Homo sapiens: one gene and its partners. The protein of the gene in region 1 interacts with the protein of each later gene in a biochemical or structural test. Each region holds a gene or a part of one and is shown on either strand. Other genes may lie near its edges. The genes, in order: STIP1, CLCN1 and ACVR1.

Region 1 (3,651 bases):
CTCGCTCTGTCACCCAGGCTGGAGTGCAGTGGCGCGATCTCGGCTCACTGCAAGCTTCCGCCTCCCGGGTTCACGCCATTCTCCTGCCTCAGTCTCCCGAGTAGCTGGGACTACAGGCTCCCGCCACCACACCAGGCTAATTTTTTATATTTTTAGTAGAGACAGGGTTTCACCATGTTAGCCAGGATGGTCTCGATCTCCTGACCTCGTGATCCACCCGCCTCGGCCTCCCAAAGTGCTGGGATCACAGGCGTGAGCCACCGCGCCCGGCCCCTAATGTGATTTTTAAGCCCAATATTTAGATGATTATGAGCGTTTAAATTATTATTTCAAGAATTATGTTTTGTAGGCAGAGAAAATCCTGAAGGAGCAAGAGCGGCTGGCCTACATAAACCCCGACCTGGCTTTGGAGGAGAAGAACAAAGGCAACGAGTGTTTTCAGAAAGGTACTGCCTGCAGCTGGGGGATTGGGGGAGCAGTGCTGGGTGTGCCTCCCGTGCCTGGCTGTGGGGTAAATGGCCGGCTACACATGGGGGCTTTTTGCTTTTTAAAAGACAGTCTTTGTTTTTCTTCCCCAGGGGACTATCCCCAGGCCATGAAGCATTATACAGAAGCCATCAAAAGGAACCCGAAAGATGCCAAATTATACAGCAATCGAGCTGCCTGCTACACCAAACTCCTGGAGTTCCAGCTGGCACTCAAGGTGACGAGACCTGTGGGGGCGGCCATTACTGAAAGCCTGCACATGAGGAGTGGGTTTTCTCTCTCTCTCCTCATCAACATTGAGTTGATGATGATCATGATGTTTGAGACAGTGTCTCACTCTGTCCTGCCTCAGCCTCCTGAGGAGCTAGGACCACAGGCTCATGCCTCCACATCCTGCTACATTTTTTATTTTTTTTGTAGAGTTGGGGTCTTGCTGTGTTGCCCAGATTTATAGGGGTGTGTGTGTGTATGTGTGTGTGCGTGTGTAAAATATGGGACCTGTATCTAACTGGTCGTGTGTGTGTGTGTGTGTGTGTGTGTGTGTGTGTGTGTAAAATATGGGACCTGTATCTATCTAACTGGTCCTGGTCCATGGAGTCACTACTGGTTGGCAGTACATTGGAAGGTGGGTCCTTTCACCCCTGTAACCTTCCTCTTTTTTCTTTGTTTTTGCCTTTTTAACCATTTTTAAGAAGTGGAATTGCTGGGTCATGTGGTGTCTGTGTTTACTTTTTTTGTTGGTTTGTTTGAGACAGTCTCACTCAGCTGCCCACACTGGAGTGCCGTGGCACAATCTCGGCTCACTGCAACCACCATCTCCCGGGTATTTTAGTAGAAACGGGGTTTTACCATGTTGGCCAGGCTGGCCTTGAATTCCTGACTTCAGGTGATCCACCCGCCTCAGCCTCCCAAAGTGCTAGGATTACAAGCGTGAACCACCACGCTTGGCCCCCTTTTTTTAAAAAAAAAAAAAAAAAAAGACAAGGTCTGGCTCTATCGCCCAGGCTGGCTGGAGTACAGTGGCACAATCTCAGCTCACTGCAACCTCTACTTCCCTGGCTTAAACCATCCTCCCACCTCAGCCTCCTGAGTAGCTGGGACTACAGGTGTGCACCACTGTACCCAGCTAATTTTTGTATTTTTTATAGAGACAGGGTTTCACCATGTTTTCCCAGGCTGGTCTCAAACTCCTGGGCTCAAGCGAGCCTCCTGCCTTGGACTCCCAAAGTGCTGGGATTACAGGCATGAGCCACTGCGCCCGGCCTATGTTTTATTTTTGAGGAACCACCATATGTTTTTCAGCAGCTGTACCATCCTTGCTTGCTTTTCTGTTTTGCTCAGCTAGGTAGGTCTGCTGTTCTCAGTCATATCAAGTTAGGTCAAATACAATTGTTTGACACTGTGGAGTTCCCATAATCCTCTCGAATCTCAGCCACCCTGCCTCTATCAGCAGTTTTTTTTGACTGTTCTCTAGCTGACAAACCTGGACCGTATTGTGGGAAGGTGACAAAGTGTGACCTGTCTAGAAACAGCCATACCTGGGTTTGTGTTGGTTTTTATATTTTGTGCCACTGTCTTCTGGGTCTGTGTCTTGGCCTAGAGACATCATTTCTACTAGTAGGATTGTGCAAGAGTCATGTCAAAAGCATATTGATTTGTGAGGCAAAGAATAGCAGGTTGTCAATCACCTGGGAGGTGGGCAGTACTTTCCCGATCATGAGAGCGTGGAGAAAGAATGAATGGGATTTCTGCTGCTGTCCCAGCTTCTTGGTGCAAGAGTTGGAATTAATTCCAGGGGAGCTCAGTGTACTGCATAGTGTTCTCTTCCTCATCATTTCTCACTTTGAAGATGTTTCAAAGAGAAGAATACATAGTGAATATCTGGTGTATCTTCCACCTTTATCTGACAAATGTTGACCTGTTTTTGCTGAACTGTTTGCGAAAGGAAATTGTATACATTTGGTACTTAGAATGAGACATCCAAGTCTTGTGCACGCATTGCCTGAAAAGACTCCTGTCCAGTGCAGCACTGTCAGCACACGCGACCTCACCAGACCAAGGCCTGATGCCATCTGCCGTCTGTCCATCCATACTTAGACTTGCCCACTTCTCCAAAAATATGTTTTAAAACTGAGGTTTTTTTATTTTTGTTTGTTTGTTTTTATTTTTTTTTGAGACAGAGTTTCACTCTTGTTGCCCAGGCTGGAGTGCAATGGCGTGATCTTGGCTCACTGCAACCTCTGCCTCCTGGATTCAAGCGATTCTCTTGCCTCAGTCTCTTGAGTAGCTGGGATTATTACAGGTGCAGCCACCAGGCCAGCAAATTTTTTTTTTTTTTTTTTTTTTTTTTTAGTAGAGATGGGGTTTCACCATGTTGGCCAGGCTGGTGTCAAACTCCTGACCTCAGGTGATCCACCCACCTTGGCCTTCCAGAGTGCTGGGATTACAGGCATGAGCCACCGCACCCAGCGTTGTTTTGTTTTTTAGTCAGCAATGGTTTTGGATTCCAAAGCTCTCAGGACCAAGGCCCACGCATTTTGTCTAGTTGTCATGTACTCTTCAGTTTCTCAAACTGGAATTGTCCCCCGCTATGTGTTTTTCATAACATCAGCCTCTTGCAGAGTCCAGGCAGTTTGTCTTGTGTGGGATGATCCATCATCTGGAGTTGTCTTTCCTGATGTTGTCCCCTCTGTTTGGTGCTGGGTGAGGCATTAGAGTTGGAAGTCCACATGCTTGAGTTGCCTGTACTGAGCTTGTCCAAGGGAATGAGCCTAATTTCTTTCTGTTGCTTCATTCTAGGACTGTGAGGAATGTATCCAGCTGGAGCCGACCTTCAGTAAGTGCCTTTCTGCTGCCTGTCCCCTGTCTCTAGCCAAAAGATTAGAGAAGGAAAGGGCAAGCCCTTTGTCTACCTGTGTGTCCTTGGGACCTGTAGGATTTAGGATCCAACATCAGCAGGTGTGAACAGTGTTGGTGTGCAGGTGAAGAGGTGCAAGGAGCAGCCTTGGGCGCTGCGGTTGGATAACGCGCCACCTTTCCTGTTTGTAGTCAAGGGTTATACACGGAAAGCCGCTGCGCTGGAAGCGATGAAGGACTACACCAAAGCCATGGATGTGTACCAGAAGGCGCTAGACCTGGACTCCAGCTGTAAGGTGGGGCTGCTTC
Region 2 (3,651 bases), on another chromosome or scaffold:
AGGTGGTGGTCCTGGGGGATTCAAGAGATGTGGCCTTTGAATATAGCACAGGGAGAAGAAAATTACTAGGATGCGAGGTGCTGCCTGAAGAGGGCGTTCACCCTGTTCACATGGAGAGAAAGGGGACAAACCTGCCTAGTTCAAGGTTTCCTGAGGCCAGGCCTCATCTCCATTCATCCAATTATGTGCGTGGTTGCATTTCCCTGGTTCCTTTTCCTCGTTTTTGATAAAGATGAGGCTTAGCCAGGTTTTAGGTAATTTTGTCATCAATTTTTACTTTGCATCAGATTAAAGTCCACCCCCCCTTATTCTTAATATGTTGAAATATTTTTTTCTTTGCCTCTCTTGAGTGTTGCTTTTTACGCCCTCACTCGCATTCCTTACTTTGTCCCTACCAACCCTTGCTCTTTTTCTGTAGATCTACCCCCTCAATTTCTGCTCCAGCACCTACGCTCAGAAACAGTACTACTTAGAACTACTACTTAGCTTTCCTTTTGCCTCACCCACCTTTCTTAAGCATGATTGTTTTTCTCTTCTTCTAGCCTCTTGGTTTTTCCCCTTGCGTTGGTCCTTTTAAGTCGGGTTTTTAGTATTAGTTTATTATTATTATTATTTGTATGACTCCTCTACCTTCTTTTCTTGAACTATCGAGGATGGTCAGCTCCTGCAAAGCCCCCTCCTATTTTTGTTCTGTCTTCCTTATAAGGTTGCCCCAGGGTACATGGTATATGTAGAACGGTAGGAAAGTCCAGAGGAGGGTGTTAAGGAGAGTCCCTGTAAATCCTGAGCTCTGCTTGGCAACTCTACTGAGGAACTGCTCTGGAACTTTCTCTCTCTTAACTTCTCTGCAGATTTTTTTCAACTACCTTTTAGTCCCTGTGGGTATCTGACAGTTGTGAACCCCATTCAACCCTACATTCTAAGGGATGCAGAGGGCACGGACACTTGGTCCTCATGTTTTGGAGGTTGAAGGCCCATTCGTTTTCAATCTTCTCTGTGTTGGACCCATCCCTTGTCTGAAATAAAAATAAAAAACTCCTAGCCTGAGCAGTTGTGTGGTTTTGAGCATGGGAATCCAAGAGATCATTACTTTCCACTACTGCTTCCACCCAGATTCATGTTTCAGCAAAAGCTCCTTAGGTCCAAGCAGTGGGGAGTGTGGGGGAGCACTTTCACTGCTGGCTGCCCCCAACCACACTTCTGTGCCCCTGCAGGAGTGCTATTTAGCATCGAGGTCACCTCCACCTACTTTGCTGTTCGGAACTACTGGAGAGGATTCTTTGCAGCCACGTTCAGCGCCTTTGTGTTTCGAGTGCTGGCAGTGTGGAACAAGGATGCTGGTAACCAAGGAGGCCTTGGGTGGAGGCCATGTGAAATAGAAAAGCTGGGAATGGGGTGCAGAGGAAAACTCTGTGGGGCAGTTCAGAAAAGGAATAATGGGCGGCATCATTTGTGGGGTGGGACCAAGGCCCAAGGGTGTATGACAAAGATATAGGTCATGGAGTGGGAGAGTATATCCATGGAGGAGTGTGCGTAGAAAAAAGGAAAATACATTCAAGAGGAGAAACTGGGATTGGAGGAAGGAAGGAATTAATCCTGAAAACTGCCCACCTCTGTTTCCCTGTTGGGTTTCTACGAAGCTCCCATCGTAATACTGGCCTTTCCATCCTACAGTCACCATCACTGCTCTGTTCAGAACCAATTTCCGAATGGATTTCCCCTTTGACCTGAAGGAACTACCAGCTTTTGCTGCCATCGGGTCAGTGGGGTTACCTGCTCTGTGTGTGGTGAGCAGGGTGTGGAGTGAGGCTGTAGATTGGAAGGGACCCAAGCTAGAAAGAAGGTGCGGTTGGCACAGATAGAGTACATTGCTGGGGGGATGTGGGCAGATAGGAAAGGCAGAAGCCTGGTATTTGTTTCCCTGCAGTAGTTATGTCCAAGAGATGAGGATTTCATGTCTGTAAGATTCCAACTCTATAAATTACACCCTCAGGATTTGCTGTGGGCTCCTGGGAGCTGTATTTGTGTATCTGCATCGCCAAGTCATGCTCGGTGTCCGAAAGCACAAGGCCCTCAGCCAGTTTCTTGCTAAGCAGTGAGTCACTGCCCTTCTTTTGCCCTACCCATTTACTTTCTGGTTTCTCCAAGAGTTCCTCCCTTTTTGTCTTTGGGGAAGGCATTAAATGCCTCTGGGTGGCTTGCATTAAAATATAAGGAAGCTCTGATATTGTGGTTAGGGGGTGAATTGTGTGGTCTCCCATTTAAAGATTATTTTTGTTTTTGTTTTTTGAGACAGAGTCTCACTCCATCACCCAGGCTGGAGTGCAGTGGTGCGATCTCAGCTCACTGTAACCTCTGCCTCCTGGGTTCAAGCGATTCTCATGCCTCAGCCTCCTGAGTAGTTGGGATTACAGACATGCACCAACACGACCAGCTAATTTTTGTATTTTTAGTAGAGATGGAGTTTCACCATGTTGCCCAGGCTGGTCTCGAACTTGTGACCTCAGGGGATCTACCCTCCTTGGCCTCCCAAAGTGCTGGGATTACAGGCATGCACCACCGTGCCTGGCTAATTTTTGTATTTTTAGTAGAGATGGGGTTTCACCATGTTGGCCAGGCTGGTCTTGAACTTGTGACCTAAGGTGATCTGCCCACCTTGGCCTCCCAAAGTGCCCCATGGGATTAGAGGCATGAGCCACCGCACTCGGCCTCAAATATTGGTTTTTTGTGTGAAGAGAATCTTTTTCATTTAAAGAAATGAGACTACGGTGGACTAAAGGAAACTTCAGCTTGCCATCGTTCAGTATGGTATTTACTGTGAGTTGGCTGAATTGTGGCGGTTAACTCTGTTTCTTTTTCAGCCGCCTGCTGTATCCTGGAATTGTTACCTTTGTCATTGCCTCATTCACCTTCCCACCAGGAATGGGTCAATTCATGGCTGGAGAGGTCAGCTGTTGGTGGGGCCACATGGTAAAGAGGAAACAGCACAGATATACCTCAGGCTTCAGAGCATAAGTAGTTTTGTCCAAGGATAGACTTTCTAGATTCTCCCTGAGAAAAGGGCAAAAGAGACCCTTGAATAATGAGGCTGGGGAATAAGTTCTCTAAAAAAGGAAGCACAGGAGTTCCCTGGAGAACCCACCCTTTCTGCTTCTTCCTCTCCCAGTTGATGCCCCGCGAAGCCATCAGTACTTTGTTTGACAACAATACATGGGTGAAACACGCGGGTGATCCTGAGAGCCTGGGCCAGTCAGCTGTGTGGATTCACCCCCGGGTCAACGTTGTCATCATCATCTTTCTCTTCTTCGTCATGAAGGTACTGCTCCTGACACTAGCAACACCCTAAACCTCCATCTGTTTTCAATCTATGAACCCAGGGTTTGCATAGGGTAGGAAGGGGTAGAACTTCATTTGGTCTTCATCCAACCTAAAAATAAGTCATTTGAAAACCATAGAGTTGGCCAGGCATGGTGGCTCACACCTGTAATCCCACCACTTTGGCAGGCTGAGGCAGGTGGATCACTTGATGCCAGGAGTTGGAGACCAACATAGCCAACATAGCGAAACCCCATCTCTACCAAAAATTCAAAAAACTTAGCCAGGCATGGTGGCGCATGCCTGTAATCCCAGCTACTGGGGAGGCTGACGCAG
Region 3 (3,651 bases), on another chromosome or scaffold:
GTTTGGGTGGCTTTAATGACAGGATAGTTTAGGGGTGCTGGATATGTGCTAGGCACTGGGCTCAGCTCTTCACAGGTACTTTTTCATGACATTTCCACAAACACCATATGTCTTATTATTATTTTACCGTCCTACAATAAGAAATTGAGGCTTGGCAAATTTCAGTGGTAGAATGGGGATTTGAACCAGAGGTCTGCAGGACTTCAGAACTCATGTTCTTGGCCACTTTTGCCAGTGATTGTCAAAGTTCATTCACTCACATACTGTCTTCCTGAGTTTACCATGGCTGAGTCCCACTTACTCTATTAATATTTTTCTTTAAAGCAATGATTCACTTAAAGAAAAGAACCTAAAGACATCATTTTTTTGAGAGGAAATTATGTATTACTACCATATTTGGAAAGCCAACTCACTTGTTAGGAATAGGAGGTAGTCATAAATATGCGTTTGTACTTGCACCGAAACCCCAACTTCAGAATAATGATTATGTGGAGTGTGTGTATGTTGCAGGGACCTGGAATAAAAATGGAGGAAGTAGGTAGATGATACAGTGTTGGTGATGTTCTGGTTTTTGGATTGGGTGATGGGTTCATAGGTGCTGATTTTATTTTTAGACTTTATAACCTACATACACAATACATTTTTTCTAAAATGATAAAGAAAATTAAACACATAACCATTAACATAATGATTACTTAGGGAATATTTTACTGCACTATGCTGACTATAGATTTAGCTTGGTGCCTTGTTTGCAGTGGGCACACAGTAACTACTGGCTGATCGATAAGACCCCAGGAAATAATTGTAAAGCAAGCTCATTGTTTGTTATATTTGAATAAGGTTGAGGTATGTCCCCCTCCTCCCCTATTTTCTCCTGCTTCTACTCTCCTTTCCAATATTGCAACTAAATAGTGTGGGCTGCAGTGAGGTTTCACCTGGCTGTAGTTATGGGAGACACAGGCTGGGCTGAAGCTAGCACTTTTCAGCATCACCTTGTCTTATATATCTAGCACTTGGGATGGGGCAAAGAATACTGTCATGAAGTGTTAAGACACCTTCCTTTTTACCCAGTAGTAAGGTGTGACCATTCAGAGCTGGAAGCAGTATTTAAGTTAAAGCAGGGCCTGGATGAAATGTTAACAACATTAAACTGGTGAGGCTGGGAAATAAAGCCATCAGAAATTTTAATTGGAATCCGCAGAATCTCCTGTTTTATTTTCCCAAGCAAGCACCGGGCACTGTGGCTTTATTCCTGGAAATGAGGATTTGGAATTGGGTTTCCTGGTACAAAATACCTTCTTTGATCTTTTGGAGTGAAAACTTTGTGTTTCTTTCTGTGGCCAATTCCAGCTCTCAGAAGAACCAAATGGAAGATTTACCTCCTCATTTTTAGCAGTTGGCCATAGAATGCTCTTGCTTGCCATGTTAAGTTTAAGAATCAGAAGTTCTAAACTAGGGTTTGTCTGTTGGAAGGACATTCAAATGAAAGACTCCTTTTGAAAGAGCCTCATCAGTTTGGTGTGGTTGGCACATCACAGCCTTTGGTTCAGATGGGAGGTAGTTTTGCTTGAACTCACACTCTCAAAATTAACTAATAAGATATTCGGCAGCTTCCTTTTCTGAGTTAACACAAATACACCCTCTGCCCCTAATATTCAAACTAACCACACATTCGAATACTATTCCTGTGCGCTTCTAGGCAGTTCTGGAAATGTGAGATTGTTTATATGTATAAAGGCTCTTATGTGATCCATCAGAGCTTTGTTTTCCAGAGCCACGGCTATTCAGTTGTTTGATTTTTGGGTTTCACTCTCTGACCAACATTCCACTTTGCCCATTAGAGTTACTTCATTGTTGACTCTGGGTATTTGGCCTTTATTTCTGTGACTGGGAAAGTAACTTTAAATTTCAGTCTTCCTAAATTTTGTGGAGGTTTGTGCAGTAGGTGAAAGTTGTTTTGAAGAGGGGGATGGGGTGAGACCACTTTTAGCATAAGTGTCCTGAGGGATCACCCAAGGTCAGTTCTCATTCATCTTGAGGCCAAACCCTGGCTGTTCTGGTCTCTGCATTGCCCCTCACTCCCCTCCTTTTTGGGGGACCCAGATTCTTCAAGGCTCAGAGTAATCTTACTGCAAGCAAGAATGCTTTCTGGATTTTGCCATTTTGCCTTTCGACAGTCTCCTAGGTTTTATCATCCCCATTTCTTATTCTGGGATGTGATTGATCTCTTTGAGGGCAAGGACTTCAAGTTGTTCATTCCTCCATTGATTCTTTCTACACAAGTCATTGCTCTTCACCAACTTAAAACCTTTCAAATTCTCTCCCTGGGCTCCTTGAGGCAAGGGACTGTCTTATTCATCTTTTGTGTAACTTTTGCACCTAACACAATGCCTGGCCTAGACCACACAGTCAATAAATTGTTTTTGAATTGCCGAGAGAATGAATGGATGATTGCATATTAAGGGAGCAAAGGGACCTAGTCTTCTAGGGAACCAGGGAGATTGCTGACAAGATGATACCAGTCACTGTGGTCCGTAAGGATGAGTTTGGAAAGTGGGGACGAAAGACATTCTATGTAGAAGGAACTGCTTTTGATACCTCTTCTCAGTGCTTAATGTTGTAACCTGTGCTTAGTCAATTCCACAAACATTTATTGTGTTCTTTTCAGCATATGTTTCTTTCTTTCTTTTTATATTTAAGAGTGATGCTTCCATTTTTGAGAAGAATATCTCACTAATTTTTTATATCCCACAGAGCAGGGAATCCTTCATTATTTATAGTTAGGACCCAGACACTCAGTGAATCAATTACTTTACTCTTGACTTTTTCCTGTTGCATATGTTTCCAAACAGTTGACAGTGAAAACGTAGTGGTGGGCCATGCTTATGTGAGAGGTGGAAAAATGTAGGTGACCTCTTTGGAAAATGGGTGGAATCCAAAGTAAACTCCTCTTTTGAGAGATTTTTAAGGGCTGAAATCAGTGGACATACCACATATAACTTTTCATCTTGAATACTTGATGGGTGTGTGCTTTTGCTCATCTATGAAAGCCAAGATTGGCTATTAATATCACCATGCCATCGAAAAGCAAGATTACTTTGATTTGGGGGATTCCGTTTTAGCCAGTTCTGGAAGAATATTGATAGGCCCTCCAAAATATAACCTTGAACTTTAGAAATGTACAGAGGGGAGAACGAAGGTGGGGTGATCTTGGGCAAAGTTGGATATTAGAAATGGGACGATACTTGAGAGTTTGGAACGTGGGTACTGAGGAAAATGTGCAATAAGAAGAACTTGAGAAAAAGCATTCTGGAATAGAAGGGATGGGTTGAGTGATGTTTTAAACCAAGTTCCGAAACTTCCACTATTGCAGCTATTGATGAGTGTTGGCTACGCTTGGGGTGAAAGTAAGATGTGCTTGATTTACTCTCTGTAAGTAGTGAGTTAATGCATATAAGCAAACATGACCATAAAGGCAGGAGCTTAGGGATGAATATCCCTTGTCTTGATGTCAGGGACTTACACAAGATAGAAATATGCATAGGAGTGAAAGTGTAGGTGGTTATCTAGAGTGACACCTTCCTTTTCAGGAGTAAGGGACACATGTGCCCAGTGCTATTTTTCATACAGTTTTCATATGCTTATCTTGAA

The links.
Region 2: the proteins of STIP1 (region 1) and CLCN1 form a complex in vitro, tested with the Homo sapiens proteins (one study listed by BioGRID).
Region 3: the proteins of STIP1 (region 1) and ACVR1 form a complex in vitro, tested with the Homo sapiens proteins (one study listed by BioGRID).

Annotation. Positions count from the first base shown.
Region 1 is NC_000011.10:64,199,591-64,203,241, forward strand, and holds part of STIP1 (stress-induced-phosphoprotein 1), read left to right. Parts: intron 1-349; coding exon 350-446; intron 447-578; coding exon 579-703; intron 704-3,285; coding exon 3,286-3,322; intron 3,323-3,534; coding exon 3,535-3,638; intron 3,639-3,651. UniProt on the Homo sapiens protein: Acts as a co-chaperone for HSP90AA1. Mediates the association of the molecular chaperones HSPA8/HSC70 and HSP90.
Region 2 is NC_000007.14:143,329,558-143,333,208, forward strand, and holds part of CLCN1 (chloride channel protein 1), read left to right. Parts: intron 1-1,214; coding exon 1,215-1,340; intron 1,341-1,674; coding exon 1,675-1,759; intron 1,760-1,993; coding exon 1,994-2,095; intron 2,096-2,861; coding exon 2,862-2,946; intron 2,947-3,166; coding exon 3,167-3,316; intron 3,317-3,651. UniProt on the Homo sapiens protein: Voltage-gated chloride channel involved in skeletal muscle excitability.
Region 3 is NC_000002.12:157,869,778-157,873,428, reverse strand, and holds part of ACVR1 (activin receptor type-1 precursor), read left to right. Parts: intron 1-3,651. UniProt on the Homo sapiens protein: Bone morphogenetic protein (BMP) type I receptor that is involved in a wide variety of biological processes, including bone, heart, cartilage, nervous, and reproductive system development and regulation.